6 separate regions of the Homo sapiens genome follow, and regions 2, 3, 4, 5 and 6 are each linked to region 1. Evidence: fine-mapped expression QTL. A gene starts in region 1. Each other region holds a variant in brackets. All regions are shown on one strand. Distances are from middle to middle.

Region 1 (5,072 bases):
ACTAATTATTTTTTTTTCTAGGAAGCTCATTGGCACTGTCAAATTTGAAGAAGAGGCGTGCTCTGACTGGTGAGTGACTGCAGTGGGTCAGGCTGGTCTTAGAGCAGTAGCAGGTTATGTCCATAGATATTAGATAGGACTATTAATAGTTTCAGGTTACAGCTGCCAGGCTTACAGAGAATTGCAGTTTGGGGGTAATACAGTGATTTTTCTTCCCCATGGCCTCTTGACTCTGTTTTAGTTGGGTGTGACAAGAATGACCCAATTTGTGCAATCAACTTTCACATTCTGCTTCCCAACTCTATGACCAAGACGTTGAGGACTGTTCATGAGCCAGAAAACAACTCAAGTACAGGGGCTTTTGCTGCTGTCAAATCTTCCATCACGCTAGGAAAACAGCATGCAATCCAACCCACCTAGCCAATTTGCCTTTGCCTTCTTCCATCAGAGGGGTGGCCTTCCAAATAGGATGTTGACCATTCACCTAGGAATGACTGTCTACAAACTAAGTAGCTCTTGGTTGGTCAGTAAAGAGCTGCGTATAGGGCAGTGTCCAAGTGACCACAGAATCCAGCAGCTCCTCACTCAGTTCCAGACTCAGTCTGTGGGGAACAGAGGCTCCCTGCTCATGAGTGTCTCCTCTTTGCCTTCCTCAGGCACCAGGATCCCGTATCAACCATTTCCATTTTGTAATAGAACTCTTCGGGGACTGCCCTCCCCGTTAGAGCTTTTCCAAGATCTCTGAAGACATCATGAGTTTTTCAGGTTTCAAGATTATTTTATGTCCTTCAGTCACAGGGGGAGCTTCAGCTAGTGTTCCATCGTAAGCTAGTAAGTGCCTCTCAAATGGAAACTTTATAGTCTAAAGGCCCAGTTCCCTGGAGGTGCTCACAGCCTTTTGCCATTAGCCCTAGGCAGTGCTCCACACAGGGCACAGAGAATGTGTGTTACCTGCAGTCTGGTTTCTAGTCTACACTGTGTAGTCCACCCTCCAGGGCCAAGGGGCCTGGAGTGCTCTAAAGACTTTCCTGCAGGCCCTCGTGGCTCTGTGTTAATGCTGTCAGTCTTCCTGAAGTCCTGTCCTCTCACCTCCTGCCTAGATCTGCCCCCAGCACACATTCCTGACTCCACACATTTCTCAGTGCCTGCGACCTGGCACACATTTCTGATCCGAACTCAGTGCCTGGGGCCTGGCAGGTGCCCAGGGCACTCCATTGCTCAAATCCAAGCCTGTGGAGAGGATGACATATCATTCCCAGGTTTCTGATGAGCAGAAAAAAAAATCTTTGTTTCTATAGTGCTATCCTCTTTTATCCACCATGTGAGAGGTCAGGAGCCGACTCACCCCAAGGGTCTAGGAGTTGTGCCATTGACCTTACTGCCTAGGGTCACAGGCTGGCACCCTTCAGTACCACACATTGGATCTCTCCACACAGCAGCAGTGTGCTTAACTCAATGGGGAGGTGAGTAGCCCAAGGTCAGATAGTTGGACCTGGATAGACACTTGACTGGGGGACAGGCTTTGGAAGCCACTCCCCTGGGCCTCCTCTGTCCATGGGGCCTCAATACTAGAGCCCACAAGGTCGGCCAGAGAGTGTCTGTGCCTCGACCATGCAAAGGGTGCCAGGTTGTGGCTAGGGATGCCCCCGGGGTTCCTCTCCCTCCTACCTACTCCTCAGCCTCTGCATGTGCCCGTCATGGCCCCTGTGTCCTTCATTCTGTCCACTCATGTGTTCACTGGGCCCCTCCTTGGTGCCAGGCACCCGCTACTGAGGGATACCAAGCCCCTGCCAGAGAAGCTTGGAGCTGGGTCACAGCAGCAAGGAGGCTGGAGACATCAGTGGCATCAGTGCACTGGTCAGTGAGGCCGCTGTGGGAGGAGGGAGTGGGAGCAGAAGCTAAGAGTGGACTGAAGTCCTTAGGCCAGGAGGTAGTTCAGGGTTTAAGAAGAGGAGAGACAGGCGTCCCGGGGAGGGAGCAGGCTCAGGATGGGCCTCCAGTGCCTCCTCTGGAGCTCACTACCCAGACTACAGCAGCGCAGTGGGCAGCGCCTCAGCTCCTTCCCCTTCTGCTGCCTACAGCCTGGACAGGACCCGGAATCAAACCGCAGGCCCTGGGTCACCGCTGCCGGAAAGAGCCAGTTCCTGTCCGTCCATGCACCCACCACCAAAACCCAGGCCTTCCTGGAGGTGCTAGGGGAGGCCATGCCCCTTTTCTGAGTGCTTGGAAGTGACTGCTGCAAGTGACAAGTGACCACGCCTTTTCCCCCGCGGGTATAAATTCAGAGGCGCTGCGCTCCGATTCTGGCAGTGCAGCTGTGGGAACCTCTCCACGCGCACGAACTCAGCCAACGATTTCTGATAGATTTTTGGGAGTTTGACCAGAGATGCAAGGGGTGAAGGAGCGCTTCCTACCGTTAGGGAACTCTGGGGACAGAGCGCCCCGGCCGCCTGATGGCCGAGGCAGGGTGCGACCCAGGACCCAGGACGGCGTCGGGAACCATACCATGGCCCGGATCCCCAAGACCCTAAAGTTCGTCGTCGTCATCGTCGCGGTCCTGCTGCCAGTGAGTCCCGGCCGCGGTCCCTGGCTGGGGAAGAGCGCACCTGGCGCCGGGAGGGGGCAGGGAGACGGGGACACGGCAGGGATGCCTGGCCCTGGTCACCTGCGGCCGGGCATGTCCGGGCAGGACGAACTCGCCGTCGGAGTCAGGGGAAGAACTGGGTCCCCGGGCTGGGCAGGAGGGACCCGGCCGCGAGGGAGCAGAGAGGCGGTCCCCCTGGCTGCCCCGAGCCCGCGAAGGGAGGGAAGTTCCAGAATCGAGAGAGGGAGGGAGTCAAGGTGGAACCCATAGAGTGAGCCTCCTGAAGACACAGAGCGGTTGCCTCTCTCATTAATTAATTAATTAGTTAATAAAATTAACCCCATGTTTACATTCTTAAACGTGTTCCTTGGAGATCGGTTTAACCAACAGCCAGTGAAAAAACTTTTCAGCGCTGTCTTTAGCAACTTTCACCTCCTCTGTCCTGAAAGTGGCAGGAAGCCGGAATGTGGCAGGAAGCGGTTAACCAAGGTGCTGCCTTGGTTAATGTCTTCCACTACCACCCGTGTGTCCCCTCTGTATCCCATAGGCAGGACCGGGGCTGGCCCCTTCCTTCAGCATAAACGGTGTAAAGTTGTTGTGAGTTGGCTTTGGAAACTGAGATTGGTAGTAGTGTGAGTGCAAGGACATATTATGTATAAAATATGCAGACTTCTAGGTCTCTTTCAGATTGATTGAGGTTTTTGCTAACAGCCCTTTTTAAGATTCTTTATGTAATACAAAAAAAAGAAAAAAGAAAAAGAAAAGGCCAAAGCAAGGTTACAGAAACCATGAGAGTTTGCATGTTGTCTTTCTACAAATTAATGCTAAATTCAGAAAAGCAGTAACATTTTCACCTCTCAAAAATTACACAACTGACTTTTAAAATAGTTTATAGTGGGTGGACTTACCTGAGGCAGCTAGAAGAATGGCTGTGTCAGGACAGTGGCCCTGAAGAGAGAATGCATGGATGACCAGTGTAGACAAGGCCAGCAACATCAGTTTCACGGTTTTGGGAATGTGAACTCTATGCGTCCCAAAGGAGGCTTTAATCCCTCCATCAGTCTTGCCTTATTAAATGCATTTAAATGTACAATCACTTTGTTAAATTTTGGAGCTAACACAAATCACATTAGATGTTTTATGGCAGTACATTCAGATTGATCTTCTTTTAAACAAGGGTATTGTATTTTACTGCATGGGTAAGCCACATTTTAATTCACTGTTGCCGCCTAGGGGCAGCTGGTTAGATCCCATCCTGACGGCCTTTGCTAATTCCAACAGCATTGTACTAAATACCCTTGTATGTATCGTGTGTCCACATATCCATGCACACCAGCTTATTGGGCAACTCCTTACAAGTTGAATTCTACTTCTCCTTCTGTGGGATAAATGACTTCAGAAGTTTCTTTAAATGTTCACGAATTTTCCTCCAAAAAACCACTGAACCCAGCTTACAGTCACACCTAGTCCACAAATGTGCCTGTGTCCCTACACCTTTGCTACACTTAGCTTTCATTCTTTACTAGTCTAAGATGTAAAACATAACACATCACATTGCTATGTATTTTTGTTTCCTCATGGTATTAGGAATTTTCAAGGATATAGGAGTTTTTTGGTACTGGGAGTAGACCAGGGTATCCAGATGAGACAGCAGGGAAGACTGAATTCTGAGCTGTGCACTTGGAAAACCCTGGTCAGTTGGGGCCAGTCCCTGCCACCCACCATGCCTGTGAATGGAGATAAGGTCTCCATCCTCAGCCTGTCAGGGTGACTTCAGATGAGCCTGGAGCTGAGTTCAGTTCCTGACCCCAGGTCCTGGCTCTGTCAATGCTGGGCTGGTCCAATCTGTGCGCCAGGTCCTTCCACACCATTCCTCTCTCTATCAAAGTAGGAATTGAGAAGTTCCAACGGCTCAGAATCTCGGACTCTCAGGCTGTCAAGGACTCCTGAGATTGAAGGTTGTGAATGGCTGGGCCCTGCCGTGCTCCCCCTCTGGCTCTGTGACTCTGGTGTGGCCCCAGCTCCTGCCTGTAAAGTGAAGAGGAGGTAAAAATCTTCAGCAGCCCTGTGTAAACCTCAGAGGGCTGTGTTACCAGGTGTGGGAGGACAAATCACATCCTCAGGGCTGGTGTCACTCACTCTGGACTGGATCCCCAGGCACCTGTCCTCCATCCAGCAGAGGCTGCCCCTGTTCCTACCTGCACCCTGGTACTTGCTCCCTGAGCTTGGGGCAGAAGCTTCTGAAGACTAGGGTGGAGCACCACGGGGAGGGGCCATGGAGGAACAGAGGAGCCAGACGTCAAGTGAGGACAGCGATGGCACTGCAGGGCCACAGCCTGGTTTACCTGCCATGCTTCCAGTTGTCCTTCTGGTAGGCGCCTGGCCCGGGTTGTAGTTTGAAGAGTGAGCAGGAAATGTCTCCATCCAGGTGGCTGCAGATGGCTACTCACCCAGGCTGTACTGAGAGGCCACAGTCCCAGTTCTGGTC
Region 2 (5,072 bases), 53 kb before region 1:
ATATCATCTCATACCTATCAGAATGGCCATTATCAAAAAGATGCACGATAACAAGTGTTGGTGAGGATATGGAGAAAAGGGAACCCTTGCTTACTGTTGGTGGGAATGTAAATTAGTACAGCCATTACAGAAGGCAGTATGGAGCTTCCTCAAAAAACTAAAAATAGAATTATTATATGCTCCAGCAATCCCACTTCTGGGTATTTACCAAAAAGATTTGAAATCAGTATATCAAGGAGATATCTGCACTTCCATGTTCATTGCAGCTCTATTTACAACAGCCAAGTTATGCAATCAACCTGTGTCCACCAACAGATAAATGGATAAAGAAAATGTGGTATGTAGACAATACAGAATACTATTCAGCCTTTAAAAAGATAGAAATTTTGTCACTTGAAACAACATGGATGGAATTGGAATACATCATGCTAAGTGAAATAAGTGAGGCACAAAAAGAGAAATACTGTATGTTTTCATACATGAAATTGAAAACAACGAGGCTGGGCACGGTGGCTCATGCCTGAATCCCAGCACTTTGGGAGGCCAAGGTAGGGTGTGGATCACCTGAGGTCAGGAGTTCGAGACCAGCCTGGCCAACATGGTGAAACCCTGTTTCTATTAAAAATACAAAAATTAGCTGGGCGTGGTGGTGGGCATCTGTAATCCCAGCTACTCAGGAGGCTAAGGCAGGAGAATCACTTGAACCCGGGAGGCGGAGGTTGCAGTGAGCTGAGATGGCACCATTGCACGACAGCCTGGGCAACAAAAGTGAAATTTTTGTGTCAAAAAAAAAAAAAAAAAAACAACTGAACTCAGAAGCAGAGAATAGAATGGTGGTTACTAGAGTCTGGGCACGGGGGAATGGGGAGATGATAATCAAAGGTACAAACCATTGGTTAGACAGGAGGAATAAGATTTTTGAGATCTGTTGCACAGTGCAATGAATGTAGTTAATAACAGCATATTGTACATTTCAAAATTGCTAAAAGAATAAATTTCAAATGTTCTCACCATAAAAATGTTAAGTATTTGAGGTGTTGGACATATTAGCTGATTTAATTATTCCATATTGTATTCATAAATCATAACATAACTTTGTACCCTATAAATCCCCATAAATACATACAATTTATTGGGAGTTGCCATGTTGCCCAGGCTGGTCTTGAACGTTCGCCTGGGCTCAAGCAGTCCTCCTGCCTCAGCCTCTCAAAGTGCTGAGATTACAGGCATGAGCCACTGTGCCTGGCCGTAATTTCTTAATTTACAATAAAAATTTTTAAAAAATTTTAAAAAGGGCAAAGGACTTGAAAGACATTTCTCCAAAGAAGATAAGCAAATGGCCCATAAGCACATGAAAAGATGCTCACCACCACTAACGTCTACTATATTAAAAACAACAGCATGGAAAATAACAAGTGCTGGTGAGGTGTGAAGAAACTGGAACCTTCGTGCCCTGTTGGTGGGAATGTAAAACACACACTGGGAAAAACAGTATCGTGGCAGGCCAGGTTTCACTCAGCCCTCCATCACAACTGTGTCAGTACTGACTGAGTGGTTAAGTTAAATATTAAAAGCTAAAAAAAGCCAGTGCCCTTATATAAAGGCTGGGATGTAACAAAACCCCACCAAGAGTTTTGCCTAGGCCTTTCCTGGGCCTTAAAGCATGACAAAATAATGAAGAAATTCTTAACAAGGACTCATTTAGGATTAAACAAGTTTTACTGGGGGTCTGAAGAAACTCCCCAGGCCTCCAAAAACAAGTGTGTGGGAGGGCTGAAGGAACTCCCCAAACCTCCATGATTTAGCAGGAGACAAGATAAGGGTAATCACCCCAGCACCTGGACCCATTTAGATTAAGTAAATTTACTGAGGCTCCAGAGGAAGGTCTTCAGGACTCAGACCTTAGTTATAGATTCAAAGAAGTTAATCACTTATGTCTTTAGATGAATGCACACTTACATGTAGGCATATAGCTTAGAAGGGATATAAACTCTGAAAAGCTTTGTAATTTTGAGTTGGTCTG[G/T]TGATAATTTCCAGGCCTTCTCCTTGTAACCAGTTACAGAAATAAAAACTCTCTTCCTCCCCAGTTCACCTGCATCTCATTATTGGGCAGTGAGATTCACCTGCATCTCATTATTGGGCAGCGAGATTCACCTGCATCTTCTTATTGGGCAGCGAGATTCACCTGCATCTCATTATTGGGCAGCCCCACCCTCAGTTTGGTCTGGGAACAAAAAAGTCGCCAGCCAGAAGATAAGGACAGTGCCGCGTTCAGCGGCTGGTAGCTTGCGATGAGACAGTCTTCAGGAGGATCCCAGCAGCTGTCAGGTGAGGTTTCCCCAGGGGACCCTCCAGAGGGCTGTTTATGTGCAAATCTACACGTCCCTTTCTCTACTGGGGAAGAACAGAGATAAGGAGCGGACGTGCTCAAAGGGTGAGTCAATGGGATCTTAGGCCAGGAGCCTATTGTTTTCCCATTTGGGCTGGTTAAGCCATTTATCCGGTACTGCCAAGGGAAGCAACAGGGCTGGCTCATACACCCACTTTCCCTTTGGTTGATATCAGGTTTTGCGTTAGTTTTGAGAGTCTGTTTTGCCGTAGTGCACTTCCCCTTGGGTTTTTCTGAAATGTTTCCATTTGTTTGTGTGTCTGTCTTGTTCCTTTTGATACCATGTAAACTTGAAAATGGGAAGTATTGGGTCCATCTCTGCTGAGAGGCCTCTGGGAAGGAGAAAGATTTTTTGAAGCTCAATGATTGGGAGTCAGCTTAATTAAAAGCTAACATCCAAAATGTGTATGTGCATATGTGTGTGTGTGCGCACGGGGGCGTGAAGGCCTTTAAAAGGCCTTCGTGTTTTTGGTTTTATTTCTCTCTCTCCTAGGGCCTTATCTTTTTGAGCAAAACTTTTTTTCTTCTCAGTTGACTGAATTCTGTTTTCTTCATTAATAGCTATTAAACAGAAGCTACTCTGGGGTTTTAAAGAAAAAGTGTAATTTAGACACTTAGAAATGTCTTTGGGAAAAAATTGTTTAAGTGCACTGTAAAAGCATCACATGGTCTAGCCTCATAATAATTCTCCCTTTTTGAAAACCCAGGATTCAGTATGGGCTCCACCCAGAGCTCAAACATCCAGTTAAGGCCGGGCGTGGTGTCTCATGCCTGTAATCCCAGCACTTTGGAAGGCCGAGGCGGGCTGATCACTTGAAGTCAGGAGTTCGAGACCAGCCTGGCCAACATGGTGAAACCCCATCTCTAAGAAAAATACAAAAATTAACCAGGCATGGTGGCAGGCACCTGTAATCCCAGCTACTTGGGAGGCTGAGGCACGAGAATTGCTTTTACCTGGGAGGCAGAGGTTGTAGTGAGCAGAGATCATGCCACTGTACTCTGGCCTAGGCAGTAGAGGGAGACTGAAAAATGAGGTCTTACGAATCTATAAAATGTACTTCTATTGGCATGCATAATACACTTATGTATTTGTCTTGTGTACACCATGTTTCACTACTGAAGATATACAAAAGAGGTCTAATTAAATGGCTCAAAGAAAAAAGCACTTGAATAACAGAAAAAAGGAAAGACTAGTCAAATGCTTTTTCAAGTTTATGTGACTTAAAATCTTTAATAAGTAAGCTGGTTTTAAAAATTATTGGTAAAGTAATATTAGAAATGTCTTAAGAGTTTCCAGCATACATTTTAGTTTGCATTTATTGATCAAGCAATTTCATACTTATCTCTGCCAAATATTATAAGGTGTCAAAATCTGGCATAGAGGCTACAAAACTATAATTCAGTGCAAACAGAATAATCTTTGCATGTGTAATTTTTAAATAAATGAAACATTAATATTGTTTTAATGAAGATAGTTACATCTTGAATTATTTAGTAAAATACTCTTTTTTTTTTTTTTTAAGATGGAGTCTCGCTCTGTCGCCCAGGCTGGAATGCAGTGGCGCGATCTCGGCTCACTGCAAGCTCTGCCTCCCGGGTTCACGCCATTCTCCTGCCTCAGCCTCCCGAGTAGCTGGGACTACAGTCGCCCGCCACCGCGCCTGGTTATTTTTTGTATTTTTAGTAGAGATGGGGTTTCATCATGTTAGCCAGGATGGTCTCCATCTCCTGACCTTCTGATCCGCCCACCTCGGCCTCCCAAAGTGCTAGGATTACAGGCGTGAGCCACCGTGCCTGGCCAAAATACCCTAACTTCTAATCTTCTGGCCTTAAGCAGTCTAGTCCACAGACATGAAGGAAGTTTGTTCTGGGAAAGGACTGTTATCACATTTGTTTCAAAGCTAAATTATAAACTAAGTTAATAAACAAGAATACCTTGTAGGTTAGAAGGAAGATGGAGTCAGTTAGGTCAGATCATTTTCACTGTCTCGGTCATAATTTTGCAATGGTGGTTTCCTAACTTTAATGACAACTATCGCAGTTTTCATATATAATCTGGGTAAATGATTAAAATAAATAATTAGATAAATGTAATGGGATACATACTCATAAGTAAACTTGTCATAATTTAGAATCTAAAGTTATATTAAACAACAGATATCTAATTATTTGGGTATTTTCTAATAAAAATATATCGTAGGAAAACATTCTTTCTAAAGATTGTGTCCTTTTTAAAGGGTAACTTTTTTTTTTTTTTTTTTGAGACAGAGTCTTGCTCTGTCACCCAGGCTGGAGTGCAGTGGCACAATTACTGCTCACTGCAAGCTCCACCTCCCAGGTTCACACCATTCTCCTGCCTCAGCCTCCCGAGTAGGTGGGACTACAGGTGCCCACCACCACGCCTGGCTAATTTTTTGTACTTTTTAGTAGAGACGGGGTTTCACCGTGTCAGCCAGGATGGTCTTGATCTCCTGACCTTGTGATCCGCCCGCCTCAGCCTCCCAAAGTGCTGGGATTACACGCGTGAGCCACCACGCCTGGCCAAGGGTAACTAATTGTTGTCTTATTCAAAGCTTATTTAAAGGTTATATATAAAACAAGGTAAAAGAAACCAGGAAATAAGAGAGATATACAGAAAGTTATAAAAATAAGGAGAATTTTAAAGATTATTGGTAAAAGTATC
Region 3 (5,072 bases), 100 kb before region 1:
TGGGGAGATCTTTGGCGGTGTTTGGTGATGTGTCCACATTTTAGGTTTGAGGGGGCTTATCTGTGTTTAGGCTTGCATTTCTTTAATCTGACCATTCAGGGTCCCTTTGGGCCTTGCTTTCTGTTGGATCTGCACGGGGCTTCTTGCAATGCCAGCGACCCCCGTGGGAGCCTCCCCGAATTAGGAGTCCACTCTCTCTTTGTTCTTCTCCTTCCAATTCTCCATTCAATCCATCTCCCTTGATTTTACCTTCATTTTCAGGATTTTCCTCCCATTCCCATTTTGTAAGATGATGTGGGATACTGGTTGCTAGGAGACAAGCCAGGCTCCCAGGGAGATTCTGTTGTTTCCTTGACAACCAGACTAGGGCAGCCACAGATGAACAAGCCTCCTATCAGCTGTGGGAGGGAAAGGGGCCCTTTCTGAGCTCTGCAAAGAGTGTGTGTAGGGGTGTGGGGGTGGGACTGGGAGAGCACGAGGTTTGTAGCTAATTTCAGCACACCTTGGGTTTTGGCTTGCACCAAGTACAAAGAGCTGGGAGAGCGGTGGGCAGGAGGCTGTTTTTGGAGGGGCACAGGGATCATGGGACAGGGATGGAAGGAACACATGCCAGTGACTTTGCGATTGTCATGGAAGAGGAGTGAGTTGGGGGTTGTGATGCCCAGGGCTGGGTGGTGAGGAGGTCATAGTTTATGGAGGTTGATTGAGTGGGGATGAGGCAATTGTGAGGGAGAGTCTGGAGTCAGGGAAGAAGAGAGAGCCGGAGGGAGAGGGGAAGCTGAGAGGCTCACTGAATGGGCTGTATCACCATATATCAGCAATGAGTGGGCTGTATCACCATACATCAGCAATGATACAACATCAGCAACATCCTAGGGCAAAAATTATATTACTCTTGGCACACTCTCTCCAGGACAGGATCCTCCTTTAAGACAGGCCTGATTAGACTAAGAGTTCTAACACTTGAATTGGGCCAGTCTGTATCTTAAAGACAGATATAATTACACATATAGATATGCAATCTAGCATTATATAATACCACATTACATAAGAAGACAAATACCTCCTTTCAGCCCAGCCTCTCTTGGCACAAATTAACCACGGTTCAGGAGACTCTTCCAATGTCTTCATACCCATTTCCCAGAGGGGGAGACTGATGCCCAGAAAATATAAGTGACTTGCCTCTTCCTAGATAGGACAGTGAAGTTTGCCAGTCAGGCAGTTGGGACAGGGTAGAAAGGGTGAGATGATACAAACAGAGAGGCAGCTGAAGGACAAGGGGACTGCTGAAGGGGCTGGGGAATGGATGGAAGGGGTTGCGCAACCCAGAAGGTCTGATGTCTAAACTCATGGCACAGTATTTGTCAATTTCCACTTGTTGATTGGCTGACCACTGCTTAACTCTAGAGGTGACATAGCACAGGTGGGCAGCAGTGTTTTCATCACAAAGTAGCTGAACTTGGCCCAGCACTGCTCTGCTGGTGTTCTGGCATTATTCTCACTGTCAAGGTGCTCCTGAATTTGAGAACTGGCATCCCTCCATTAGGCCTCCTCATTCCCCCGCTTCTGTCTACAGACCTACATGCTGGGAGAATCGGAACTTGAGAAAGAAGTTCTTTTGGCTCTTGGGTTTTAATCTTTATCCTCCAGCTGCACATATTTTGTATTTGGGATTATATCTGTTTTGGTATTCACTCGACAAAACAGAAACCACAGCCCAGATGCTGCCTCCTGGCGCCAGCACATTCCTCAACTTGAGATCAGGAACTGTCAAAGTGGGGTTCCCGGTCCTCAGTTCAGGAGAGAGAATTGGGAGGAGGAAGCCTGTGGTTAGAATAACAGTTCTTAACAGTTCTCTGGGCCAGGTGTGGTGGCTCACGCCTGTAATCCCAGCACTTTGGGAGGCCAAGGCGGGCAGATCACTTGAGGTCAGGAGTTTAAGACCAGCCTGACCAACATGGCGAAACCCCGTATCTACTAAAAATACAAAATTAGCCGGCATAGTGGCACACACCTGTAATCCCAGCTACCTGGGAGGCTGAGGCAGGAGAATCACTTGAACCCAGGAGGCAGAGGCTGCAGTGAGCCGAGATCATGCCACTGCACTCCAGCCTGGGTGTCAAGCGCAAAACTCCGTCTCAAAAAAATACAAAAACAAAAAACGGTTGTCTGCTGAGGGAGGGTTAGGAGAGAGAAGGGGTGGTACAGTTGCCCTGGAGACCATGAGGGCACTGCATGGAGACCTCGTTGAAGGGTCCAGATCCTGTAACATTCCAAAAAGGCGGAGGAGGTTGTCTCATTGAGAAGTCCTTGCTGCACTTTTTGCTTAGGTTGCTGAGATGCATCCACTC[G/A]CACGGATCCCAGTTGCTATCGTTACTTGGATATTTCGGTCTGCATCCCTGCATGCTGGCATCCAGTTACAGCCCAGCAGGAATGGAGCCTCCCTGTTGTTGCTGGTGGCCTGGCTCTGGGCTGGATGGCTCAGCAGCCAGGGTGCCTGGGCAGCCTCCAGCACTCAGAGCTCAGCCTTCCTTAGCCTAGGAGGGATGACTCCGGGCTGCTAAAGCCCCCCCAGACGACTTTCATACACACAGGAATGTGAGTGGGGCGGGCAGATGACGCTGGCGAAACCAAGCGTCCTAATCACGCTGGCCCTGCCCCTGCTCCCTAATCCCAGGAGGGTGGATGCCGAGGCCAGGGCCTCCTGGCGACAGATTTTTAAACACGAACATGACATCTGACTACAGAAGTGCCTTCTGTTTGTTCATTCAAGCCATCCCTCTCTGGGGGTGGACAAGCCACTTCCTCTCTGCTCAACATCGAAGGCAACTGAGGCAAGCATTTGCCCAGAAATTCAGGCTCAAATTTCTGATCTTTTGCTTTCTGGCAATCCCATCGCCCATGTAGCCAGTTTAGTGAACATCACCTAGGAGTGCCAGCTGCCTGGGATCTTCAGCCTGAGGATCATCCTCCCTAGGAATGGGAAGGGCAGAAGAGGGTGGAGGTGGATCTCACTCTCTGACGCTGGGGGCAGGGTGCTGGGAGGACAGCCCCCCGTAGGGGAAGTAGAGGCCCATTGGCCACTGACTGTATCATCATAGGCCTGTGGTTCCCCTCACCCGCATCTGAAAGCTGGACCTGTAGCTGAGCATGACACATGGGCAACAGGACAGACCCCGAATAGAGAAAGGGAGGCCCCTGGGCTGGTCAGGTGCATCCAGGAACCTCCCCATCCTAGAGAGGCTGGGAGGAAAAACTCTTGCATCTCCATAAAGGGGACTGGGGTCTGGGGTTGAAGCATGCACTTAGGCAGGCTAGGGCTTGGAAATCCACCACCACCAGAGAGGGCAAGGGAAAGAGTGGAGGCCAGGAGAGCTGCTGCCCAGTTCTGACAAGTCCATTAAATTTTAAAGTGCCCTGCCCTCAGGCATGCTGGGAAGGGGTGGGGACGTGGCCGACTCTGCTTCTCTCAGCTGTTTGTTGTTCTGCTGCCACTGCTCTGCCGGGGAAGGAGGAGGAGAGCAGATGAGTGAGCTGCCCTCTCTGGAGAGGGGACAGGGCAGGGCCTCGGCAAGCTCCACTGGTGATCTCGCGTAGGTCTCCTTCATCCAGACGCACAGCTGGAGGATCGTGGGAGCAGGAAGGGGACAGGTGGCCCATCTGGTGACACTGCTCCTCTCAGCCTGAATGGGCTCCTGGCCCCTTGGACCCTCGCAGAGCTCTTGCCCAGAACGTTGCCCACTCCTTCCTCCTCCTGTCAGCTCCGGGGCTTGCAGAGGGGGCAGCCTGGCTGAGGAGAGCTGCGGGTGCTGGCCCTGGCCCACGGCGAGCTGGCATGCCATGCCGTCCTGACCGCCTCCCTCCTCTCCCTCAGGTCCCGTTTAATGGATTCTGACATGGATTATGAAAGGCCAAACGTAGAGACCATCAAGTGCGTTGTGGTGGGGGACAACGCCGTGGGTAAGACCAGGCTCATCTGTGCCCGCGCTTGCAATGCCACCCTCACCCAGTACCAGCTGCTGGCCACGCATGTGCCCACAGTATGGGCCATCGACCAATATCGTGTGTGCCAGGAGGTAAGGCTGCAGGACTACCTGGCTGGGGGTCCACGCCATGAGTCTGGGCTTGGGGGCTTCCTGAGGCATAGCTTGGTGTCTCCAGAGCTCACGGGAGCCCTCTAGGGGTGGGACAGGATGGGTTGGGGGCAGCTGAAGAGGAAGGAGCCCCTGGAGAGAGGTTTAAGCCAAGTCTGCCCCAGGGAAGTGTCTCTGGCTGGTTGTGTTTTCAGGGACTGAGCTGGTGCCTGGGACTCCATCTTTGTCTGGGGTACCGCATTGTATGTAGTCACAGCCTTAAGTAATGGGGAGCACTGGAGGGCTGGGGCTTGGAAGAGATACAAGCTGAGAGGAGCAAAGAAGCTGGCAGCTGATAGCAAAAGACCAGAGGCTCACAAACATGCAGTTTGCAAGGAAAGCCAGGAACAAGGGTCAGCTCCCAAAGAGGCCCCTTCCACACCCATAGCAGTCCCTTAGGGTCTCTTCCACCCCCTTAGGGTCTCTGCTACCCTCTTAGTGTCTCTTCCACCTGCTTAGGGTCTCTTCCACTCCTGGTCAGCTTGGAGGCCACCCTTGTTATAGATTCTACAGAGATTTTACGTGGATGAAAGTTGTGCAGGGTGCACAGTGGGCGATGCCAGCCTTGTCCCTCCATGCCCAGTGATGTCTGGGGCCCCCAGGTGTCAGCCGGCGCTTATCCTGAGGTGGCACGCAGAGGTCCCCAAAACTGCTGCCTTCGAGTCCCACTCTTCCTCCCCGTCCCCAGGTGCTGGAACGCTCCCGAGACGTGGTAGATGATGTCAGCGTCTCTCTGCGCCTCTGGGACACCTTTGGAGACCACCACAAAGACCGTCGCTTTGCTTATGGGAGGTAGGGAAGGCCTCTAGCCGCCTGCAGAGAACCAACAGGGTGGGTTTTTCCCTGCTTTTCCCAGGAACAAAGCACCTCTGTGAAATTTCAGCTGGCAAGAAGAAGTGGAGAAAACAGCTCTGGCAGAGCCTCATGGGGGCTGGGGCA
Region 4 (5,072 bases), 210 kb before region 1:
CCATCGTCTTGTCAGTTAGCAGCTGTGGGACCTTGAAGGCTTCTTAAATTCCCCAAGTCTAGACTTTCTTATCTTTAAAATGCAGCTGAAAACAATGCCTGTCTCATGGAGGTGTAAGGGTTAAATGGAATCATGTAGCAAGCATTCAGCACATGTCAAGTCCAGGTCAAGGCCAACATGCAGGGGCAGGGAGAGGTGTAACCTCTTTCAGTTTGGAGCCATGCAGGACCCTGCCATTTGCAGCCCTTTGGGGTAAGACTGTAGCCCCCAAACATCCTGCTGCCCCAGAGCAGTGGCCCAGCAGGTGCACTGAGAGCTCTGGTGCACCTGGCATGCCCCGACTCCTCACACAGCAGCAACAGGGACAGTGACAGGGACCTGAGATGGGGTGGCCCACCTGGCTGGCAGCTGGCACTGGGCACATTGCCCAGAAGTTGGGGAGTTCTCAGGTAGGGGCAGAGGTGGGTGTTTGAGGGAGCAGTTAGCAGCACTGTCTGCTGTGGCAGGGGTCTCCTGGGTAAGGTCAGAGGGATTCGAGGAGGCCCAGGGATCACCCCAGGGTGGGGTGGGACGCTGCTCAAGTCACAAAGCAAAGTTGCAGGGTGTAGGGGAGGGGATGGGACTGTTAGTCTAATTGTGACTCATCTCTCCTTATTTTTCTCCTTATCTCTTGTATTTATTTTTTTCAATCCTCCCAAGTTACTGGGCCTTGAGGACACTCCTAGTGTGTGTGTGTGTGTGTGTGTGTGTGTATGTGTGTGTGTGTGTGTATTTCTATATATATAATTTTTCTTTTTTTTGAGACAGAGTTTCGCTCTTGTTGCTCAGGTGGAAGTGCAATGGTGCGATCTCAACTCACTGCAACCTGCATCTCCTGGGTTCAAGCGATTCTCCTGCCTCAGCCTCCCGAGCAGCTAGGATTACAGGTGGCTGCCACCATGCCCAGTTAATTTTTGTAATTTTAGTAGAGATGGCGTTTCACCATGTTGGCCAGGCTGGTCTCAAACTCCTGTCCTCAGGTGATCTGCCCACCTCGGCCTCCCAAAGTGCTGGGATTACAGGCGTGAGCCACCGTGCCCAGCCACTCCTAGTATATTTTTATAATATTTACCAAATAAGACTGGGTGTGGTGGTCCATGCCTGTAATCCCAGCACTTCAGGAGGCCAAGGTGGGAGGATTCCTTGAGCCCAGGAGTTGAGACCAGCCTGGGCAACATGGAAAAACTCCATCTCTATAAAACCTTTAAACATCAGCCGTGTGTGATGGTGTGCGCCTGTAGTTCCAGCTCCTAGAGAGGCAAAGGCAGGAGGATCGCTTGAGCCCAGGAAGTCGAGGCTGCAGTGAGCCATGATCATATTTGCCAGCCTGGGTGACAGAGCAAGACCATCTCAAAGAACGTATTTACCGAATGAAGTTTTATGATGTTCTCTAGCACTTTTTAGTTTATTGTCTTTAAAAAGAAACCCTCTGAAGTGTCTCTGGAGAATACAAACGCATGCGCGCATGCACACGCTGGGAACAGGAGCTGCTTCAGTAGGTAACTGAGTGGGAGGGAGGTTAGCTTTTCACTGTGACCCTTATCTGTACACCTGCTAACTCAAAATAATTTAATAACAACAACAATGACAATAAAAAGGGAGTGAGTGCTCTCATTTTAATTGCTGTCTACTTATTTCCAGTTAATTGTCTTCCCCTGTGGTGGCCTGCAGGGGACTCCACACATCTTCTTTAGGACATAACTTATTGGATGCAGGGCCAACCTAGGATGTTTGGCCAACCCACCCACTTCTTTTTTTTTTTTTTTTTTGAGACAGTTTCGCTCTGTTGCCCAGGCTGGAGTGCAGTGGTATGATCGCAGCTCACTGCAACCTCCACCTCCCAGGTTCAAGCAATTCTCCCACCTCAGCTTCCTGAGTAGCTGGGATTACAGGCTCGTGCCACCAAGCCCAGCTGATTTTTGTATTTTTAGTAGACATGGGGTTTCAGCATGTTTGCCAGGCTGGTCTCGAACTCCTGACCTCAGGTGATCTGCCCACCTCGGCCTCCCAAAGTGTTGGGATTACCGGATGCCCCAACCCATCCAGTTCTAAAAGGACCGGCCACGGGAGAACCCTCAGTCTTGGCCCCTGCTATGAGGGTGGGGCTTGTAAGTGAGGTGGCCGTGGCTTCTGCCTATCTCTGGCCAGGCTTCTGGAGCCCTCCTGGGCTGGGCCACACCAGTTTGCTCAGGGGCACTGGTACCGCATCCCCAGATTTCCAACCAGAATCTCACACATCACTATGACATCATCTTCCTAAACCATTAATTTCATGCTATTCCTGTGCCCAGAAACCTGCAATGCCTCACTTCTGTCCCCATCAAATCTCAGTGTTCTGGGCCTCTGCCACCAGGCCCTTGTGCCCAGCTGACTGGTTCCTCACTTCTGTCCAGCACGCCACCAGGCCTTCTCTTCTTCCATGTCAGGAAGTGCTGGGCTCAGGATTCTTACACCTTATTCCCCATGCTGGGAGCTCCCATCTCTCCGCTTTCCTGGCTAACCCAGGGCTAATCCTGGCCACAGGCTTACTCCGCCAGGAAGCCTTCCAGGCTTCGGCAAACTCCCATATGCTCAGTCACTATGTGATTTAACCACTGAGAAGTACCTCTCATAGTTTATTCAAAAGTATGTTTGTTTTGTCTTCTCAAGTGGATCATAAGCTCTCTGCATTCCCATAGCACCAGGCTTACTGCCGGGCACAATCTTCAAACCTCGAAAATGACTTGATTTGATTTGGACTCAAAAGACCTGGGTTTGACTTCTGAGAGCCTGAGTTTGCACAGCTACAAAATGGGG[A/C]TAATTTTCCTACCATACAGGATTTGTTGAAATCAGAGCTCGGGAGAGAAGCACCCATTTTGGAGCTGGGAAAAGGAGGAAAAGAAGACCATGGGAGTGAGAAACAGCAGGAGGCAGAGGCTGGGCCATCTGAGCCCCCTCAAAATCCAGAACAATGCAGGGGCTGAGAAGAGGAAGGTGGAAGCTGGGCTTTGGGGAGAGACCCCAGTCCCCTTCAGAAGATGCTACCCTGTTCTCCTTTCTGCTCTAAGGCTCCGGGGAGCTCAGAGTTTAGGGAGATGGTAAATGGGAGAGAAAAATTAAAGGCAAGAGAAGTCTAAGGAAGTCGTCAAAGCACAGCCAAGCAAACAGAACCCTTAAAGGAGGTAAAAGGTAATGCCGTAAATTACAGCTTAAAAGCCTCGTTTTGGGCAAATTGCTTTTTAACAAGCAGACAACCTCTATCAATAGCATCTACCGTATGTTTTTATAAAGTGCAGAAATATGTTTTTATAAAGTGCAGAAATATGTTTTTAAAAGGCCGGTAAATAAAGTTCCTATCGATTTGAACTCAAGTGTAATCTGTTTTTCTGTCTGCCACCAACACTGGTAATAAAGCAGAATCATGTAATACGGTATTTCAGCTAATGTGACTATACATCACTGCAGGGACGCCCTGCTCGGTGGCGATCTATCATTTTCTATTGGTATTGCTTAGCTGCAGAATTTATAAACTTGCTCCAAATTGATGCAATGTTCAATTTTCTTTTCCAATTTATTTTTGGTTGAGCCAAGCAATATTGAGGTCTCTGAGCAAGCCGCTGAGCACCACCAGATGTTACCTGGAAGACCTCATGCTCCTTGATAGGAGTGAGGAGAACATGAGCCAGTACTTGCCACTCTCAACAGGCACAGAGACAGAGAGCCCTGGAAGGAGATAGGTGATGGAGAAGAGGTAGCTTCCTCCCCTGGGGACTCAGCAACAATTGCGCTCTAGGAAATCCAGGGGCTGAAGGTGAAAGGCAAGAGAACATCCAAGAGAGAAACTGCAGTAATGAACACTCAAGAGTCTGAGACTTTCACTAAGCTGCAGACATCAGTTCAGTAGGTCTGGATGGGGCCCGCAATGGCACATTTCTACCAAGTGGCCAGGGAATGCCGATGCTGCTGGTCCACGGACCACACTTTGGGCAGCGATTCTCTAGAATTTTAGGAACTTTATGTCAATAAGCAACCTCAAGTCATAGACTTACAAATTTCAGCGTTGGAAAGACCCCAAGGTGAAATCTGGTGCATTCTCCATTCTCCATTATTTACATGGGGAAGGTATCATTAGCCCTATCTTTCAAACTCCCAGCTTCCCCTCTCTGTGCCCCAGTAGCACTGTGGGGCACACCTTCATAGTGGCACTTGCCACATCACACTGTGTTGTCCACCAGACAGAGTGTGTCTAGAGGTCACTATGTTCAGAGGCCGCCTGGCAGGTGGCAGGTAGCAGGCAGTGTGGCGCACAGAGTTTGGAATTAGACAACATGGGTTTGAGTCCTGACTTTTACCGGCAAGCATGCTTGGTCTTAGGCAAGTTACTTTACCTTCTTGAACCTCACTAGTAACTTGGGAATAAAGTTCTTTCCTCAACATCTTCCCCCTTTTCTTTTTTTTATTTGAGATGGAGTCTCACCCTGTCACCCAGGCTGGAATGCAATGGAGCAATCTCAGCTCACTGCAACTTCTGCCTCCCCAGGTTCAAGTGATTCTCCTGCCTCAGCCTTGCGAGTAGCTGAGATTACAGGTGTGCACCACCACATCCGACTAATTGTTTGTATCTTTAGTAGAGATGGGGTTTCACCATGTTGGCCAGGCTGGTCTTGAACCCCTGACCTCATGATCTGCCCACCTCAGCATCCCAAAGTGCTGGGATTACAGGCGTGAGCCACTGCTCCCGGCCCTTCCCATCTTATTAAATAGGATAACATATGCAGCATAATGACCTTGACACAATACCAGATGTCCAATAAAGGTCAGCTGTGTTATATATTTCTTCCATATGCACTTGCCAGATGAATGAATGAATGAATGCTTATGTGGCAGTCAAGGCAAAGCCAGTATAAGTGGCTCACACATAGGAAGATGCCAGGGCAGAAAGTGGGGTGGGAGCCATGGAACCAGGCTCCTCCTGCCCTCTGTCCTACCTCACCTGCTGTCTCCCACATCCTCATCTCCCTCCAATGAAACCCAAGTAACAAATCCAAGAAGTG
Region 5 (5,072 bases), 36 kb after region 1:
CCTAGAATGACTATATCCGTAATTTATCCTACCACGACTGGGCTACTGTGGAGAAGAGTTTGCTGGAAAGAAGCTAAAACGATTACTGAGGTTTTTAAATAAAATAATGGAACGTGACACAAGGACAAATGTGTCAGCCATTTTAGATCCTGTTGTCACAGTGTTTAAGAATTGATATCTCTGAGATGAGTCAGATGCTTACAGAGGGGCCAAGCTCCTCAAACAGGGAATCTGTACCCTAAAACGCAGCTCAGGAATCTCTGCCCTAAAAGGCATCCCAGGGACTCAGTTCACAGACCACCAGAAGCGAGAGGGGCCCATCCATGCCTGAGTCGGCAACCATTTCACACCATTCCCAAGCACCGTCCACTCTTCCCTCTTGATGCCATGGCAGATGCCGGGGCAGATAAACACCTGCTCTGCCCTGAGCCCAAATGAGGCTCAAGATTCACTAACGTTCAACTGTAATGGCGCTTGAAAGAGAAGCTCTTCGCAGTCTCGGATCTAACTTAATTCTCACTGTCCTCATCTGCTGTGGACAAGTCGGAAGATGCAGTCCCATGACTGTCCCAGCACGACAAACCAGACACATGGCTTCCCAAAGATACCAGGCTCTTCAAAATCCTGGGCATATGTAAACATCTACTTATAAATAAATAAATAAATATTTATTTATAAATAAATATGGCTATATACCTCTAAAATTAACAAGTAAGACAAGCTGCCCCTTGAGAAGCTGCCAGCCATCAAACCCTGGTCCAGTCTCAGGGCGCAGGAGGGAGAACTGGAATGCAGTAAGTGCCTCCCACAGAGGGAGGATTTCTCCCTCCGTCACTAGTTATATTTTTAGTCATTTTTGACTGCTGATTTGTATCCAGGCAACCCATGTAAACAGCCTAATAAGTGCATTTCCTAAAGTTTTTCCATGTTTACATCATTATACAAAAATCGGAAAAGAGATGTACAGCCTACAGTAGTAAGCAATATAAATGTTTCTCTAATTAAGGTGGGGGTAAGCCCCAATAATCCTATCTTAAAGCTCAAAACTCTAAGTCGAACCCTCGTAAGTCCATATGCTCATGACTTAGCATAGGGCTACGTCTTGATAATCTCATCATTAAGTCAAAAATATCCGAAACTGAAAATACAGGTAATAACAAGATAATCCCGTTCTAAAGTTAAAAAACTATAAGGCAAAGCATTGTGGCTGTGCGGCATCTGTAGTTAGATGTCATTAAATGCACACACCAGTAGAGATGGAGCTTGCAATATAAGAAGCAGAAAAAAAGACTTGTCTCATGATGAAGAACTGCAAAGAATGACATCCTAAAACCACTTTTTTTCTTTTTAAATTGAGATGGAGTTTCACTGTGTTGATGAGGCTGGTCTCAAACTCCCGAGCTCAAGCAATCCACCTGCCTCAGCCTATCAAAGTGCTGGGATTACAGGCATGAGCCACCGCATGTGGCCTAAAACGACCCTTAATACACAATCGTATAACTATGCAGCCAAGAATCTGATATAAATTTCTCCCGTTTGCTTATCACACGCAGTATTTCATAAAAATTACTCCAAGTGCGTTAACAAAGTTCTAGGACCATTGGTAAGCTGCCCCATATTGGATAGTAGAGTTTGTTGGGGCATGGGTCAAGTACTGGACTGTTTCTTCCAGGCTGCTTCCCTTTGTAGGAGAAAAGGTAAATGAGGGAAGCTCTGGTTTCCTGAAGAGATTCTTTCACAGGCAGGACGTAGCAGAGCCTGCCTCATCTTCTTCATAAAAGAGCTTTTCGGAGCCCACCAGTTGGTCCTGAATTGTTTCCTTTGCATGTCCTTCTTCCAGTGTTGCCGAGGCATCCAGCAAGGTGCTGACTGAGAAGAGAGAAGAGATTTAGGGTCTCAATGCTCCAAGGACGATCAGCACAGGATCGACATGGGGCCCCCTGCTTCCAGCAGTGAAACCTCCAGAAGAGCCCTCTCAGCTATAGGGACAGCAGTTAGGACACCGTCCCTATTCCCTGTCCTCCTGCTGCGTCTCAAGGCACAAAACACTTACTGTCAGCGGAGTCAGCGTCATTCACTGGAACCAGCAGCCTCCTCCTCTGACACCCTTCAGCTTCTGCCTGTTCCTGTAACACACAGTGGGGAATGCTCTGGTCAGAGTCAGGAGTCCTGCAGTCTAGTACTGACCCTGACCACTAGCCAGCAAGAGACCTGCAGCGCTTTCCCTCTTGGGTCTCCATGGAGATGGAGACAAACCTCTGGTCCTCCATAGCTCTTGGGCTCTGTGTGCTGGTGGCTCATTGAGACATAAGTGACATGCAGTAAATGCTCACTTTGTAAGTGTTCTGACCAACTTTGACTATAGGCCTGTGTAATTATCCCCTGATCAAGACATAGAAACTGCCACACCCCAGAAAGTCCCCTTCTGCCCCATCTAATCAACTCCCACCCACCCTCACAAGAAATGATCACTTCCTTCCAGAATTCTTACCAGCAGAGTCTCGGCAGACTATATATGAGAGCACCCAGGAAAACCTAACAAAATGATTTATCCCAAGACTGTAAATGATCTTTGATCATC[A/G]GTACTCTACCATATCAATAGCGTAATTAAATAAAATGGCAGTCTCTATGGAGGCTGGAAAGACATTTGGTAAAATTAAACAGCAATTCTGATTTTTTTCAAACCCTTTTAGAATAGTAAGCTGTGTTCTTGATGATGAGAATTTCTATATGAAACCAAAAGTGAATGCCATTGCTAAGAGTGACACTTTGGAGGCCTTCCCCAGAAATCAAATCAGGACCCAAACACCTGCCTTCCCTAAGCACAGCTGAATATTGTTCTGAAAGGTCTGGCCTAGGCAACAAGATGGAAAATTAAAATGAGGCAAGACTTTTGGAAGAGGGCAGACACAATAATCATTATTTTCAACGTCATTTAAAACCCCTAAGATGAAACTACAATATTGAAATAGAAATGTATGTCTGGAGGAATGTTAAAAACATAGCAAATGCAATAAATTAGCAAACAGAATTACAAGGTTATCCAACTCATAATGGATACAAAATACTAAACAGCCATAAGAAACAGGAATAATTTATTTGAAGAGGAACACAAATCACAACTCAGTTACAATAAAATACTTGACACCAAATGTTATCTCCTTTGATAAGGAAATACTGAATATTAATAAAATATTCAGTGTTTCTAGATTAATTTTTAATTTTAAAGCGAATTGATAAAACGGCAACTGAGGTTTTTCGGGAGGGAAGGATGGAGGAAATCTTTTAATTCTAAATTTTATCTGGGTAAAATAATACATTTTGAAAAAGTATGGAAGAGGTGTTTGCTCTTTTGGATGTTAAAAAACATTAGAAAGTTCCCATTGGAACATGCCTCAAAATGGTAAGAGCCATCTATGACAAACCCACAGCCAACATCATACTGAATGGGCCAAAGCTGGAAGCATTCCCCTTGAGAACTGGAACAAGGCAAGGATGCTCACGCTCACCACTCCCATTCAACATAGTACTGGAAGTCCTAGTCAGAGCACTCAGGCAAGAGAAAGAAAGAAAAGGCATCCAGATATGAAATGAAGAAGTGAAAACTCTTCATGGACGATATGATTCTATACCTTGGAAACCCTAAATACTCCACCAAAAGGCCCCTGGAACTAATAAACGACTTCAGCAAAATTTCAGGATACAAAATCAATGTATAAAAATCAGTAGCACCGGGCACCGTGGCTCACACCTGTAATCCCAGCACTTTGGGAGGCCGAGGCAGGCGGATCACGATGTCAAGAGTTCAAGACCAGCACGACCAACATGGTGAAACCCCGTCTCTACTAAAGAATACAAAAATTAACGGGGCGTAGCTGGGTACGGTGGCTCACGCCTGTAATCTCAGCACTTTGGGAGGCCAAGGAGGGCGGATCACAAGGTCAGGAGATCGAGACCATCCTGGCTAACACGGTGAAACCCCACCTCTACTAAAAATACAAAAAACTAACCAGGCGTGGCAGTGTGCGCCTGTAATCCCAGCTGCTGGGGAGGCTGAGGCAGGAGAATGGCGTGAACCTGGGAGGTGGAGCTTGCAGTGAGCTGAGATCGCGCCACTGCACTCCAGCCTGGGTGACAGAGCAAGACTCTGTCTCAAAAAGAAAAAAAATCAGTAGCATATCTATATACCAATAATGTTCAGGCTGAGGACCAAATCAATAACACAATCCCATTTACAACAGACACACACACACACACACACACACACACACACACACACACACAATACCTAGAAATACCTCTACCCAAGGATGTGAAAGATCTCTAAGAGAATTACAAAACACTGCTAAAAGAAATCATAGATAACATGAACAAATGGAAAAACATTCCATGCTCATGGATTGGAAGAATTAATATGGCTAAAATGGGCATACTGCTGAAATCAATCTACAGATTTAATACTACTCCTATCAAATTACCAATGTCATTTTCCACAGAATTGGAAAAAATTATTGGAAGTAACTGAATCACGTGGACTGGTTTTTCCAGTTCTGTTCTTGTGATAGTGAATAAGACTCACAAGAGCTGATGGTTTTATAAAGAGCAGTCCCCTGCACACGCTCTCTTGCCTGTCGCCATGTAAGATGTGCCTTTGCTCATCTTTCACCTCAGGCCATGATTGTGAGGCCTCCCCAGCCATGTGGAACTGTGAGTCCATTAAACCTCTTTTTCTTTATAAATTACCCAGTCTCAAGTATTTCTTCATAGCAGTATGAAAATGGAATAATACAACTCCCCATTCAACAGCTGATGCTTCGGATATTTGGCTAGCCATATGCAGAACAACGAAAACTAGACCCCTACTTTTCACCATATACACAAATTAACTCAAGGTAGATTAAAAGTTTAAAGGTAAGACCATGAACTATAAGAATTCTAGAAGAAAACCTAGAAAACACCCCTCTGGACATCAGCCATGGCAAAGAATTTATGATTAAGTCCTCAAAAGCAATGCAATAAAAACAAAAATTGTCAAGTGGCATCTAATTGAACTAAAGACCTTCTGCACAGCA
Region 6 (5,072 bases), 28 kb before region 1:
GCCTCTGGGAGCTCGTATGGTTCCTCAGCAGAGTCCACAGGGCCCTCCCTGTGCTACAGCCTGGAGCCTGTCAGGCGGTGAGCTGAAGCCACGACTGCACTCACCTCATGGGTTTGCGGGGAGAATGATTCACCCAGGAAGCAGACAGTGAGCCCTTTACTCTGGGAACACCTGTGCCTGGAGTCTGCTGAAGGCAGGGAGGACAAATGAACCCCATGTGAATCCTACTCCCTGGAGCCTACAGTGTGGTGGGAGAGGTGACACCAGGGGTCATATAACTAATAGGAGGTAGCATGAGGGAGGCCTGAGATCTCACCACCCTTGCCTCCCCCTCCTCCAGAGAGGCTGTGCTGGAGGGAGGCCATGCCATTGCAAGGCCATAGGATGTGGTATTGTTTGCCTGGAAGATGTGGTTTGATTACAGCCACCATTGAGGGTCATGGAGGCAAGCTAAGCTCCCTTTAAGGGTATTTTTTTTTTGGCTGGGCCTGAGAATTAAGTTGACATAAGACAGGTCCACAGGAGAAAAGCACACAAATTAATACAATGCAAGTTTTACATGGCACAGAAAAAGCAGTGAGAGTCAGTTACTTATATACTGAATTAGACCAAGTAACTTGGGAAGAAGCAAGTAAATATGTGGAGGCTAAAAAGATGAGTTATTCTATTCTTTTTTTTTTAATATCTGCTCCTTTAAGGAATAAAAAAGACAAGCTTACCTTTTAAAATATATTTTACATATGTATACAATCTAAATTTATTTTTCTCTCTTTATCCCTGAATACTTTATTATTTTTTTTTTAATTTTTTGGAGACAGAGTCTTGCTGTGTCGCCCAGTCTGGAGTGCAGTGGCATGATCTTAGCTCACTGCAAGCTCCGCCTCCTGGGTTCACGCCATTCTCCTGCCTCAGCCTCCCAAGTAGCTGGGACTACAGGTGCCCGCCACCACACCCGGCTAAATTTTGTATTTTTAGTAGAGACAGGGTTTCACCATGTTAGCCAGGCTGGTCTCTATCTCCTGACCTTGTGATCCACCTGCCTCGGCCTCCCAAAGTGCTGGGATTACAGGCGTGAGCCACCACGCCCGGCCTACTTTATTATTTTATTTTTACTTTAAGTTCTGAAATACATGCGCAGAATGTGCAAGTTCGTTACACAAGTATACTTTTGCCAGCGATGCACCTGCTGTTTTTCAATAGCCTTTAATTCATAATAGTCAATGGGCCAGGGTAGGCAGGGTGCAATGGCTCACACCTGTAGTCCTGCCAAGGCGGGCAGATCACTTGAGCCCAGGAGTTCAAGACCAGCCTGGGAAACATAGCAAAACCCATCTCTACAAACAATAACAACAACAAAACCCACAGAAAATTAGCCTGGTGCAGTGGCCTGCACCTGTAGTCCCAGCTGTTTAGGAGGCTGATGTGGGAGGATCACCTGAGCCTGGAAGGTTGAGGCTGTAGTGAGCCGTGTTCACACCACCGCACTCCAGCCTGGGAGACAGAGTGAGACCCCGTCTCAAAAAAAAAATTCTTTTAGTAATGATTATGCTATTCAGAGTGTGCGCTGAAATACAGCACTTCCCATAAGTCAGGCTCTATTCAGATCCCTTCATACAAATTCACACATTTAATTCTGACAGCAACCTGACTGTGCCGGAACTATAATTAAGTTGGTTCTCTTACGTGAGACACAGATCAACTCAGTAACTTGCTGAAGGTCACACAGCTATTCCTGGGGTGGGGGGCTGGGGGATGGGTGAGCCAACCTCAGGGGAGCAGCACCCACTGCCCAACTGGCTTCTGCTGCCTTTCCCAAGGGAGAATTTGCTGCTCACCTCATTCTGGGTCACTGCTGGGAGGCCTCTGAGAGCTCATTTAATGCCACTTCCTGTTTTCAGGAGAGAGAAACGTGAAGTTTAGAGAGGAAGGGAAGTGACTTCCCCGGACTCCTGCAGCTCTTTAGTGGCTGGCCCTGGTCTTGTACAGGGATAAAAAGAAACTCCACAAAACTCAGAAGTAGATCCCAGGCCACAGACTGAGAGAACAAGTCTGAGTTGATGTCTGGTCTTCTGAGTGATTGCTCAGTTCAGGGTCAACTGGCAGCTTTAAGGGTGTGTGTGCCCTGCAGAGGAAAGAGGAGCCTGCTTGGCTTGAGGGAGGGTGAGGGCCACACTGGGCTTTGCAACCACCTACCTATTGCATCACCAGTGGGGGATGTGCATGACCAGGAAACCCCCAGTTAATGACTCATCTGGGGAGAAGCCTGGATCTGCAGAGCCTTGCAGGAGAGGACCTGAGCAAGCCTCCACCCTCCTCCCTTCTCATTCTCCTTCTCTCTCCACCATGCCTCTGGCATGCTGCGCTCTCTCTCTCTCTCTCTCTCTCACACACACACACTCACTCACACACACCAGGAAAAGTTCAAGTCTGACAAAATTCTATGGACTGACACAGCCACACATCTCTGGCCACACACCCCTTCTCCCTCAATCAGAGGCCCGCATCCTGCACAGCCTCGTCCCAACCTCACTTGTTTTTACTCCCCTCCCCCATTACTTTGACTTACTATTTGTCTGGGATTCTGTCTGTGTGGACTTTCCCCTCTATGTCCACTAATGTCTCTGCCACTTATGGTACTTGTCACCTCTGCCTGAGCAGCCCCTCCAGACTCTTCACAAGTTCATGGACTTTGGGGTTAATGATGGCTGTGCCTCAGCTCCTGTGAATGGAAACTGTGCTAAGGAAAGGAAGGGCCATGCTGTGTTCCCGATACTCCACGGCTCCTTGTATGTGTGGTCGCCAGACGCCTATATTTCTTCCATGAGTGAATGAATGAGTAACGTGGATTCTAGGAAGCTGCACTAATGCAGATGTTGCGTTCTCAGCCTGCTCATAGA[G/A]TGTGTTAAACGTGAGAGGTGGGGAGTGTGGCAGGCAGGCTGAGGACAGAACAGAGGATCTGAATAGCATGCAGAGGATCACCCACATCCTGAGTCACCAGGACCATTGTCAAGTTTTCACCGGAGACATCGCCCATCAGATCAGCACTTCAGAGATCATTGTTTGCCCAATGCAGAGTGGATTAGGTGGGTGACCTCAGACATGGCCTGGGCAGCATTTGGGATGGGTCCTAGTGGTTAGGGTGAGGGTCAGGTTGCATTATCCTGAAGGAGGCAAGTGGCAGCTGAGGCGGATCTGAGGGAAATGATGATGATAATGCAGGCCGGTGATGCAATAGGTTTGGTAAGAAGAGGAAAGAAGTTCAAGGTGGATTCTGGTTTTCATAATCTGATATTTGGCTGAGATCATTACCAAATAAGAAGGAGCAAATGGGCATAAAGTGGCTTTAAGAATTAGCAATGTGAATATGATTTTGGAGACGCCACGGACACTTCATTGCTAGTAGACCTGCAGGACACAAAATGCTTCAGGCAGAAGAGATCTGACACCAAATGGAAACCTGGATCTTAAGGAAGAAAGGAAGGTCACCAGAAATATAAAGTTGGGGAAAATGTAAAGGATTATTACTTCTTCTTAGTTTCTTGAAAATATGTATTATCAATGATGATAACATTGCTGTGAGGTTCGTAAAGTATGCATAGTTAAGGCTTAGGAATACTGGGTGGTGATGAATGGACACATCTTGTTGCGAGTCTCTTACACTTTACATTAATATCACACAATTAATTCAGCAACACAACTCAGCCATGAAAAGGCAGTATTACTGCACATGGCCACAGGGATGGTTTTCAAAATGATCATGTCATGTGAAGGAATCCAAGCAGAATGCATACCGTCTGATTCCACTTCTTATTAAAATGCAACTAATCTAATCTATTGTGACAAAAAGCAGAAGAATCATTGCTGGGGACATAGGAGCAAAGCAGAAGAGAGGATTACACTGAAGAATGAACACATTCTGGGGGGTGGTAGACATGTCATTATCTTATTGTGGTGATAGTTTCGTAGTGTATACATACATCTCAATCTACCAAACTACACATTTTAAAAATGTACACTTTGTTTTATATTCATTATACCTCAATAAATTCTTTTTTTTTTTTTTTGTTTGAGATGGAGTCTCACTCTGTCGCCCAGGCTGGAGTGCAGTGGCGCGATCTCGGCTCACTGCAAGCTCCGCCTCCTGGGTTCATGCCATTTTCCTGCCTCACCCTCCTGAGTAGCTGGACTACAGGCGCCCGCCACCATGCCCGGCATTTTTTTTTTTTTTGTATTTTTAGTAGAGACGGGGTTTCATCAGGTTAGCCAGGATGGTCTGGATCTCCTGACCTCGTGATCTGCCCGCCTCAGCCTCCCAAAGTGCTGGGATTACAGGCATGAGCCACCGAGCCCAGCCAATAAATTCATTTTTTAAAAAACTTCAAATAGAATACAAACACTTGAGTGTATACTGTATTCCCTATAGCACTTGCACATAGATCAGGAAATATGTATACATTAAAAGTCAGTATCCAGTTGGGTGCAGTAACTCACGCCTGTAATCCCAGCACTTTAGAAGGCTGAGGTGGGTGGATCACGAGGTCAAGAGATCAAGACTATCCTGGCCAACATGGTGAAACCCCATCTACTAAAAATACAAAAAATTAGCTGGGTGTGGTGGCACAAGCCTGTAGTCCCAGCTACTTGGGAGGCTGAGGTAGGAGAATCACTTGAACCCTGGAGGCGGCGGTTGCAGTGAGCCGAGATCATGCTACTGCACTCCAGCCTGGTAACAGAGCGAGACTCCGTCTCAAGAAAATAAAATAAAATAAAATAAGCCGGTTGCGGTGGCTCACGCCTGTAATCCCAGCACTTTGGGAGGCTGAGGAGGGCAGATCACGAGGTCAGGAGATCGAGACCATCCTGGCTAACACGGTGAAACCCCATCTCTACTAAAAATACAAAAAATTAGCCAGGCTGGTGGCGGGCAATTGTATTTCCAGCTGCTGGGGAGGCTGAGGCAGGAGAATGGCGTGAACTTGGGAGGCGGAGCTTGCAGTGAGCCGAGATCGCGCCACTGCACTCCAGCCTGGGCAACAGAGAGAGACTCCTTCTCAAAAAAAAAAAAAAAAAAA

Evidence for each region.
Region 2: its variant is fine-mapped to the expression of TNFRSF10C in whole blood (TOPMed, PIP above 0.99).
Region 3: its variant is fine-mapped to the expression of TNFRSF10C in whole blood (INTERVAL, PIP above 0.99).
Region 4: its variant is fine-mapped to the expression of TNFRSF10C in whole blood (INTERVAL, PIP 0.96).
Region 5: its variant is fine-mapped to the expression of TNFRSF10C in whole blood (INTERVAL, PIP above 0.99).
Region 6: its variant is fine-mapped to the expression of TNFRSF10C in whole blood (INTERVAL, PIP above 0.99).

The regions. Positions count from the first base shown.
Region 1 is chr8:23,100,616-23,105,687 of GRCh38, forward strand. It overlaps TNFRSF10C (TNF receptor superfamily member 10c), which reads left to right and starts at 2,306. Exons shown (of 5, transcript NM_003841.5): 1 at 2,306-2,566. The coding sequence starts at 2,507. It overlaps LOC254896 (a long non-coding RNA gene), which reads left to right. Exons shown (of 4, transcript NR_046173.1): 3 at 22-69; 4 at 2,082-2,943. RefSeq lists an enhancer at 2,371-3,180.
Region 2 is chr8:23,047,654-23,052,725 of GRCh38, forward strand. The region is part of intron 1 of TNFRSF10B (TNF receptor superfamily member 10b); the gene reads right to left. Among named protein-coding and RNA genes, the nearest start is that of TNFRSF10B, 19 kb to the right of the region's middle. RefSeq lists an enhancer at 2,383-2,677. The variant G/T (reference allele first, on the strand shown) is at 2,024.
Region 3 is chr8:23,000,551-23,005,622 of GRCh38, forward strand. RHOBTB2 (Rho related BTB domain containing 2) reads left to right here. Exons shown (of 10, transcript NM_015178.3): 2 at 3,875-4,076; 3 at 4,822-4,925. The coding sequence starts at 3,885. Among named protein-coding and RNA genes, the nearest start is that of RHOBTB2-AS1, 3.3 kb to the left of the region's middle. RefSeq lists enhancers at 3,205-3,730, 3,731-4,255. The variant G/A (reference allele first, on the strand shown) is at 2,352.
Region 4 is chr8:22,886,366-22,891,437 of GRCh38, forward strand. All of the region lies in intron 3 of PEBP4 (phosphatidylethanolamine binding protein 4), which reads right to left. PEBP4-AS1 (PEBP4 antisense RNA 1) reads left to right here. Exons shown (of 4, transcript NR_125433.1): 3 at 1-878; 4 at 1,311-1,657. Among named protein-coding and RNA genes, the nearest start is that of PEBP4-AS1, 11 kb to the left of the region's middle. RefSeq lists an enhancer at 387-887. The variant A/C (reference allele first, on the strand shown) is at 2,836.
Region 5 is chr8:23,136,135-23,141,206 of GRCh38, forward strand. It overlaps TNFRSF10D (TNF receptor superfamily member 10d), which reads right to left. Exons shown (of 9, transcript NM_003840.5): 8 at 2,054-2,126; 9 at 1-1,869. The coding sequence ends at 1,736. Among named protein-coding and RNA genes, the nearest start is that of TNFRSF10D, 25 kb to the right of the region's middle. The variant A/G (reference allele first, on the strand shown) is at 2,582.
Region 6 is chr8:23,072,601-23,077,672 of GRCh38, forward strand. It overlaps the pseudogene TNFRSF10B-AS1. Among named protein-coding and RNA genes, the nearest start is that of TNFRSF10B, 6.1 kb to the left of the region's middle. RefSeq lists an enhancer at 2,081-2,340. The variant G/A (reference allele first, on the strand shown) is at 2,898.